Linked DNA regions of Homo sapiens: region 1 is linked to region 2. The links come from fine-mapping of genetic effects on gene expression. A gene starts in region 2. The other region holds a variant in brackets. All regions are shown on one strand. Distances are from middle to middle.

Region 1 (4,318 bases), 77 kb before region 2:
CATGTTGGTCAGGCTGGTCTCGAACTCCCGACCTCAGGTGATCCACCAGCCTCAGCCTCCCAGAGAGCTGGGATTACAGGTGTGAGCCACCATCCCTGGCCCTGAGAAATGATTTTACACTAACATCACTAAGTTTATGCCAGTTACTGGTTTTAAATAAGTGTTCATATTAATCTATTCTCCAAGTTTAAGTTTTTAAGAATTTTAATCTATAAAGATGTCATTTATTCAAATACCTCATGTATGTACAGGACATAGCAGCAGTTCAAAGGAATGAGCAGTTCTCCCTGGAGGCCAGGAAAGGCTTCAAAGATAAGAGCCCTCTGCCCAGGTTTTAGGAGATATATTTAAAATTCAGCTCAAGTTTGAAAGTACCCTTCACATTCGGACATAGCTCTGTAGTATCATTTGGATTGTTGTTTGTAAAATGTCTAACATGTACCCAGTGCTCTCCTGCGAGAGTTGATAAGAGGACAGATGGCAGCAACAGGAAGAGACAATGTCCAGGTTTACTCACGCATAAAAACCCTACACAGCAAGTGCCCAGGTTTACTTATGAAAATCCTACACAGGGCCGGGCGCGGTGGCTCACGCCTGTAATCCCAGCACTTTAGGAGGCTGAGGCGGGCGGATCACGAGGTCAGGAGATCGAGACCATCCTGGCTAACACGGTGAAACCCCATCTCTACTAAAAATACAAAAAATTAGCCGGGCGTGGTGGCGGGCGCCTGTAGTCCCAACTACTCGGGAGGCTGAGGTAGTAGAATGGCGTGAACCCAGGAGGCGGAGCTTGCAGTGAGCCGAGGTCTCGCCACTGCACTCCAGCCTGGGCGACAGAGCAAGACTCCGTCTCAAAAAGCAAAACAAAACAAACAAACAAAAAATCCTACACAGGAAAGTTTTATATGGCTATTAAAGATCTGGGCATCTTCAAATCAAGAACCAAATTCTAGAATTTGATTAACATTCTAAATTTGATTTCTATAAATTTAGAAAATTCCAAATCTGATTCTAGAATTTGATTCTTGATTTCAAGATGTCCAGATCTTAGTTAGTAGCCATATAAAACTTTCCTGTGTAGGATTTTTGTGAGTAAACCTGAACATTGCCACTTCCTGTTGTTTGTTGTCATCTGTCCTCTCATCAACTCTCACATGGCAGTACTGGGTACACGTTAGGTATTTTACAAACGAAAGAATCACTTAGCAAGGTTGAATGGCTCAAGAGCTGACAAAAGCAGAATTTACAAAGGATGCATAGTTTCATGTTGTTCCTGTGAATGTTCTCTGTCTAGGTTGGTGACCAGATTGTTGAAATCAATGGGGAACCTACACAAGGAATCACACATACTCGAGCAATTGAGCTCATTCAGGCTGGTGGAAATAAAGTTCTTCTTCTTTTGAGGCCAGGAACTGGCTTGATACCTGACCATGGTAAGTAAAGTAGCCCACTAGTAGCTGAAAAGTTGTATATTAGGGAGGGGACAGAAGAAAAAGGAATATATATTTGGAGAGGATAGATATTTTACTAGTTAATTCAGAGGTGAATGCTAGAACCATGAAAAGCTAGTTACATAGCAGAGTTATCATAAATAGTATTAGAAAACAAGTGACTTAGGCAGGACTTTCGTTGGAATGGAATGTATTTTAAATTTAATCAGAAAAAACATATAGTTGTTTTTGTAGAGAAATGTACCTATTAAAAAAGTGTATTAGAGGCAAACAATTTAAATACCATAAAAAATGTTTTAAATCTCTTCAAAATATCCCAGCTTTTTCTCTTACTTAGCTAATTACACATTACCAACCAATATTTTTATTTCTGTAAAGCAAGATAAGTTTATATTATAATGAATGCGCAGCATGAAAACTTAGGCTTTTCTGGTGACTCGGCAAAAACAAGTTGCTATCACCCTACCTGGAGACAGGGAGTTGGACCTGAGACCATTTCTGTCCTGTATTAATGTTAAACTTCCTGGGTTTCCATGGCATGTTTTGAAATATCATGGTATTTGAAAGTCACTGTTTTTTGAGTGCACTATTCTAGAAATAAAGGCAGTACCACACCCACGCAGTACTTGCCTCATCTAGCTCCCCACCTCCTGCCCTACCCCACCCCACCCCACCGCTTTTGAGGGATAAGTGTAGACATAACCTCCTACAGTACCCTTCCAGCTTATGATTCTCTGACTGTATTATCTTCCACCATCTGCTTGTAAATCATATGTTCCCAGTGACATCTTTGCTAACTGCACTG[A/AT]TTTTTTTTTTTTTTTTCACATAGTCCTAGGCTTTTTCTCTTCCCTCTTCAGGTTTGGCTCCTTCCGGTCTGTGCTCCTACGTGAAACCCGAGCAACATTAAGGCTTTCAGGGCTTTTCTTGGTCTTTCCTTAAAAAGACTTGGTAAATTTGCATGTCTTGTAAATCACTTTCTTCTTTTGTTTTCTTTTAAATTAAAAATGATGCTATTAAATACATCTATTTCTATCTTCTGCACTTTTCAGTCTTCTTTTGACATTAAATTTGACAGCTTAATGCAAGAGAATTATTACAAATGCCCATGAGCCTCATTCTGGTTACCACAGTTTGGTTTCCTTTATTAATTAGTGATTTTGCCATATCCTAAACTGTATCAATTCATAATAATTAGTGAGCTTCTTGGGCCACGTAATTTGGTTCAGCTTTATAACTTGTAAGTTCTAATTGGGCTTTACTAATAGAGAATTTACAGATCATATATTATCTCACTAATTATATGTAATTGGAAAAAATGAATATTATTTTGTGTATATAAACAACCCATCCTTCATGTATGAACAGATGTCTGTACACATCCGCCTTTATAGAGAGATATGTTGTAAACATATACAAACTGTATAAAATACTCAGGCTTTTTAAGCAGTTACGACAATTCAAATGGCTGTCAAAGTTCAAAACGTATTGTTCCTATTTGTAATTCTAAAATTTAATAATGTTCCATTCAAATCACTTTTTTAGGTGATTGGGATATTAATAATCCTTCGTCTTCAAATGTGATTTATGATGAACAGTCACCATTACCCCCATCTTCACATTTTGCTTCCATATTTGAAGAGTCTCACGTGCCAGTAATTGAAGAATCTTTGAGAGTTCAGATATGTGAAAAGGCAGAAGAATTAAAGGACATTGTGCCTGAAAAGAAAAGCACTTTAAATGAAAATCAGCCTGAGATAAAGCATCAGTCTCTTCTCCAGAAAAATGTGAGTAAGAGGGATCCACCCAGCAGTCATGGGCACAGTAACAAGAAAAATCTATTAAAAGTAGAAAATGGTGTTACACGAAGAGGTAGATCGGTTAGTCCCAAAAAGCCAGCCAGTCAACATTCAGAGGAACATTTGGATAAGATTCCTAGTCCTCTAAAAAATAACCCCAAAAGAAGACCCAGAGATCAATCCCTCAGCCCCAGCAAAGGGGAAAATAAAAGTTGTCAGGTCAGCACCAGGGCAGGCTCTGGACAAGATCAGTGCAGAAAAAGCAGAGGTCGGTCGGCCAGCCCAAAAAAGCAGCAAAAAATTGAAGGAAGCAAAGCTCCATCAAATGCTGAGGCCAAATTATTAGAGGGTAAGAGTCGAAGAATAGCAGGCTATACGGGCAGTAATGCTGAGCAGATCCCAGATGGGAAGGAAAAATCAGACGTCATCAGGAAAGATGCAAAGCAGAATCAGTTGGAAAAAAGCAGAACAAGGTCTCCAGAGAAAAAAATCAAAAGAATGGTTGAGAAATCTCTTCCATCCAAAATGACTAATAAGACTACAAGTAAAGAAGTATCTGAAAATGAAAAAGGAAAGAAAGTAACCACAGGAGAAACAAGTTCTAGTAACGATAAAATAGGAGAAAATGTCCAGCTATCAGAAAAGAGGCTGAAGCAAGAACCTGAAGAGAAGGTAGTTTCAAACAAAACAGAAGATCACAAAGGGAAAGAACTAGAGGCAGCTGACAAAAACAAAGAGACTGGAAGGTTCAAACCGGAAAGCAGTTCTCCAGTTAAGAAAACACTGATAACTCCAGGGCCCTGGAAGGTTCCAAGTGGAAATAAAGTCACAGGCACTATTGGTATGGCTGAGAAACGGCAGTAACCTTTAGTATAAAACAAAGAAAAACAAGTTGTAATCTTTTCTTACAGCAGCATTTTTCCAGAAAAAGCCTTTTTTTTTTTTTCAGATATTCTGAAACAGATAAGTACATGTTAATGTGAGCCTCAAGTTACCTAGGCTGCATGAAGGGCCTTTAGGATTGCTAAGAACCAACTGTCCCCCTGGCCGGCTGCCCTCCCTCGCTCTCAG
Region 2 (4,391 bases):
GGTTAGTATAAAATAAGAATCCTCTCAGTTCTAAGAGCTGTGTAGAAAAAAGTTTAAGAACCTGAAAAACTTAAAACCATACTCTAGGCCGGGCGCGGTGGCTCACGCCTGTAATCCCAGCACTTTGGGAGTCGGAGGTGAGCAGATCACAAGGTCAGGAGATCGAGACCATCCTGGCTAACACAGTGAAACCCCGTCTCTACTAAAAATACAAAAAATTAGCCGGGCGTGGTGGTGGGCGCCTGTAGTCCCAGCTACTCTGGAGGTTGAGGCAGGAAAATGGCGTGAACCCAGGAGGCGGAGCTTGCAGTGGGCCAAGATCACGCCACTGCACTCCAGCCTGGACGACAGAGTGAGACTCTGTCTCAAAAACAAAACAAAACAAAAAAACAAACAAAAACACATACTCTAAGCCAGTGATTGAATAAAATGGGGGACCATAGGCTGGATTCAGGCCACAAATGGATTTTATTTGGCTTGCAAAGGAGGAGGAGGAAGAGAAGGAAGAGTCTCTTAAAAATCCGACACAAAATGCACAATATATTTCATATAAAAATGTGTATTTCCAGCTTCTCTTGAAAAATCTGAAACTCTGGCAATATTTGGACCTGCACTGCCAAGTGGTAAAAACTAGCCAGAGCTAAGTAACCCCAGCCCTATTTATATGGGACATTTGCTCTCTAATTCATCATAGAACAACTCACTCCTTTCTGTTTTCCTGATAGTGAGGCCAAAAATCAAGTGTCACTTCTCATTATGCTTGCACTGCTTTTCTTATAACCTTCAAAGATTAAAGAATGCCATACTGGTAGTTAAATGCAGAGTTTACCAGGTAAGTACAATTCCACTCTTCATATTAATGCAGTGAAACATAGGCGGAATCAAAGAAATCAATTTACCTTAATCTGAGTCTGTTCGATTGACTTTTCCCATATCTGCTGATCGTAGGCTCCAATCTGAAAGAGGGAGTAGTCTATTAGTTAAACGATGCAAAGGAAATCCTTACATTATTAAGTCAAGCCTCATAAAAGTCATGAGCCTATTAAGTATCAATATGCTATGTGGAAAATATGCTTCTCAAAAGTTAGAATAAATCAATACTTCGAAGGACTGTTTCCTTCAAAAATCTAAAATAGCTGGACCTAAAAGTAAGTTCAAAAGCAATGCCCAAAATATTTCAAATTAATATTACCTTAAAAGATATTTCCACTTCTTGGGCGGGCATGGTGGCTCACGCCTGTAGTTTGAGACCAGCCTGACCAACATGGTGAAACCCCGTCCCTACTAAAAATACAAAAAATTAGCCGGGCGTGGTGGTGGGCGCCTGTGATCCCAGCTACTCCAGAGGCTGAGCCCGGGAGGCGGAGCTTGCAGTGAGCCGAGGTCGCGCCATCGCCCTCCAGCCTGGGCAACAAGAGCGAAACTCCGTCTCAAAAAAAAAAAAAAAAAAAAAAAATCCACTTCTTAAGGAAAAGAGCACTAGAAAAACTAGAGAGGAATAAAAGATAAGGAACAGCTCAATAAGATTGTTGATAGTATCAATCTGAGCTGTGCACATACAGGTTTCATGTCTTTTTTGTTTTTAAGCAGTTTGATCAGAAGCAAACTTTCAAAGCATTGCGGTGGCATTGTGTATGCAGCCTGAAGGAGGTGGCTTGTAAACCTTATTCTGGGACCTGGAACCGGGTTTAAAAGACATAATGACCTTGTACATCTTTTTTTTTTTTTTTTCATTTATGTTGAAGTATACATGAACACCTGGCACTACTAAACTCGGGGGAAAGTAACATTATATTATTTGTGGGAGCTTTTTGCAGGAAGAATGCTTTACAAATAAAAAAAATATATATATGTATTACCTTCTTTTGGTACCACGATATAGCATCTCTCTCATTTGAGGCCATCTGTGTCTCCAGCCAGAGAATGGGATTTCACTGAAAATGAAGGAAAACCAATCGGTGAGTCCAGCTGCTGAAGGTTACTCTCCCAGTTTGGGTAGGACGCGAAAACCGCTTCTCTCAGCCTCTCCATGAGCTGCTCTTTCTCCAGCTGTTTGCCAGGGAAAACACAACAAACAAACAAAAAAAAACTGGCGCAGCGGCGACCGGAGAAGCCTCTGCAATATATCGGGCGAGCGTGTTCGTGGGTGCGGGGGAGGGGCAGGGGCCGCCGCTGGAGTCGCCCGGCACCCGCCTCCTTCGCTCGCCCGCGTCCGGCTCTCACCTAGTGCCCGTTGCCCCGCGGGCCGGCGCCCGGGACCTCCGTCCTCAGTGCCCGGGGTCCCACCGTGAGGCCGGGGGCGAGGCGGCGGGCCAGGCAGGCCGCATCTTCCCCTCCAGGCGGAGACGCCGGAGAGGCCGTTACCATGGAGACCGCGGAGGCCGCCCCAGCTTCGGAGGCAGCCGGCCGCCCAGCGCCCTGAGGGCGGCAAATCGATCGCCGGTCAGAGGCCGCCTACAGGGTCACGGACTGACCAGAAAATAAGCAGAGAATGAACTGGAAAATGAGGGGGATTAAAAGTGAAGGCCTCCAGTCGCCACGGCGACAGCAAAAGGCTTTGTGCCCAGCTGGAAAAGACAGGTGCAAAGGCCCCGGACCCCGAGAGCCCGGGAGCCCGGGAGGAGGAGGCGGCGGCAGCGGCGCTCGTCTTCTGCGGGCCGCGCCGGGATGCAGTGACTCAGCCGTCTGAGATCTGGGCTAGAGCCGCTCAGCCGACCACCGGGCAGCAGCCTTCGGCTTCCGCTTTCCGGCTTTCGCCGCCGAGGTGGCTCCGCCCCTGGCCCGGGGCCTTCCCGCCCAGCCTTGGTCCAGGCTCCGGGTCCGAGGGCCTGGGGAGTCGCGCGGCATATCGATGGCCAAGAGCAGCTCCCTCAGATCACCCTTCAGGCCTCAGCTTAAAAGTCACTTCCTCACAAACGACTCTCCCATCCAGCGGTCTAAAGGAGGTCGGTCCTGATACTCTAGTAGCTCACGTCTTTGTGGCACTCATTTTCGTGTTTCATGGCTTAATCTCTGTTCCCCAGTGGGCTGTGGGCTCCATGAGGTCAGAGACTGGGGCCTGGCACAAGCCTGGCACTTAGGTTCCCAATGTTTGTTGAGCGAACGAATCAATGTTTGCGTGAATTTACGCTGCCCTGGGAGGAAGGGCCAGGCTGCGGCTTAGTGACTCCCTTCCTCTCCCGCCCCTCAGCAGCTCTGGGTCTGGAGCTTTCTAGTGCTCAAAGGTGTAGGGGGAAAAGAGGAACAAGTATTGGGCAGTCACAGCTTTTTCCAAATTAGGGTAAAGTTAGGTGGCGGCAGGAACAGGTTAATTAGGGCCGATAGAGGTCAGGAGAAAGGAAAGAAAGGTTGAACCCTCAAGTGAATATTTAAGGATACGTTAAAAGGATTTTTAGGCTGCTTTTTTTTTTTTTTTTTTTTTGGCCATTAATGGAACACTGTCCCCTTACAGCCATTCTCCCCACCTTATTTGAAGCCGTGTTCTTGCTAGCCCACAGCGTGTAGCATCTGGGTCAGAGAAAGCTAATGACAGATGATAGCTTCACTTAAGAAAGCCTAAGAGGCGCTGTACTCAATGTTTTGCAGACATTATTTCTTCTTATCTATTGAGTGGGCACCAGGTGGAAGTTATCCCATTTCACGGATGAGGAAAATCGACTAAGCTAAAATAACTCCCACAGGACTAAGTTTTACAAATTACTTCACCCAGCCTGGGCGCAGTGGCTCACGCCTGCAATCTGGGCGCTTTGGGAGGCCTGAGGCGGAAATGTAGCTTGAGCACAGGAGTTTGAGACCAGCCTTAGCAACATGGCCAGACCCCGTCTCTTAAAAAAAAAAAATTAGCCGGGGGTGGTGGCGCGCACCTGTAGTCCCAGCTACTTCGAAGACTGAGGCAGGAGGATCGTCTGAGTCCACGAGTTCGAGGCTGTAGTGAGCTATGATTGCACCACTGCACTTCGGCCTAGGCAACAGAGACCTGTCTCAAATAAAGTAAAAATTATTTTACCCTTATTTTTATATTGCACACATTGGCAGTGGTTTCCTTCTGCTTTTGCTCCTTGACAGCTTTTCCTTTCCTTAGTGCTAAACATTACAATTCTGTTGAGCTTCAAGACAAATGGCCAACTTGAAAAAAGAGATAAATGACAAGTGAAAAACGTCGAATTTTGCACACGTAAATATTTAACCTCAATTACATTAATAGCAAAAGTACTTTACTTCACTGTTTGGCACACAGATTTTCAGGGAGTGTCTGGAGGAACTGAATCAGGTAAGAAGTATTAGAGAATAGTGGTAAGTAGTAAACCATTTTTCAGGTGCCCTGTTGGAAACTATTCAGTGCTTCCTGCGGCTACCAGCGAACAAGGTCTGAATCCTTGCTCCCAACCAAT

Which allele goes with the higher level. Positions count from the first base shown, and alleles are read on the strand shown. Sizes are in standard deviations (SD) of each study's normalised expression.
As copies of A replace AT in region 1, the expression in monocytes after LPS of the gene that starts at base 2,687 in region 2 goes down (moderate effect, 0.58 SD a copy in Fairfax 2014).

What was found. PIP is the estimated chance that this variant, and not a neighbour inherited with it, causes the effect.
Region 1: its variant is the best candidate, but not a certain one, in a credible set for the expression of PHTF1 in monocytes after LPS (Fairfax 2014, PIP 0.78).

The regions. Positions count from the first base shown.
Region 1 is chr1:113,679,904-113,684,221 of GRCh38, forward strand. MAGI3 (membrane associated guanylate kinase, WW and PDZ domain containing 3) reads left to right here. Exons shown (of 21, transcript NM_001142782.2): 20 at 1,295-1,433; 21 at 2,994-4,318. The coding sequence ends at 4,111. Among named protein-coding and RNA genes, the nearest start is that of PHTF1, 77 kb to the right of the region's middle. RefSeq lists an enhancer at 982-1,520. The variant A/AT (reference allele first, on the strand shown) is at 2,257.
Region 2 is chr1:113,756,800-113,761,190 of GRCh38, forward strand. It overlaps PHTF1 (putative homeodomain transcription factor 1), which reads right to left and starts at 2,687. Exons shown (of 19, transcript NM_001323043.2): 1 at 2,224-2,687; 2 at 1,860-1,934; 3 at 900-956. The coding sequence starts at 1,904. RefSeq lists enhancers at 1-281, 2,560-3,139 and silencers at 1,327-1,456, 2,090-2,409.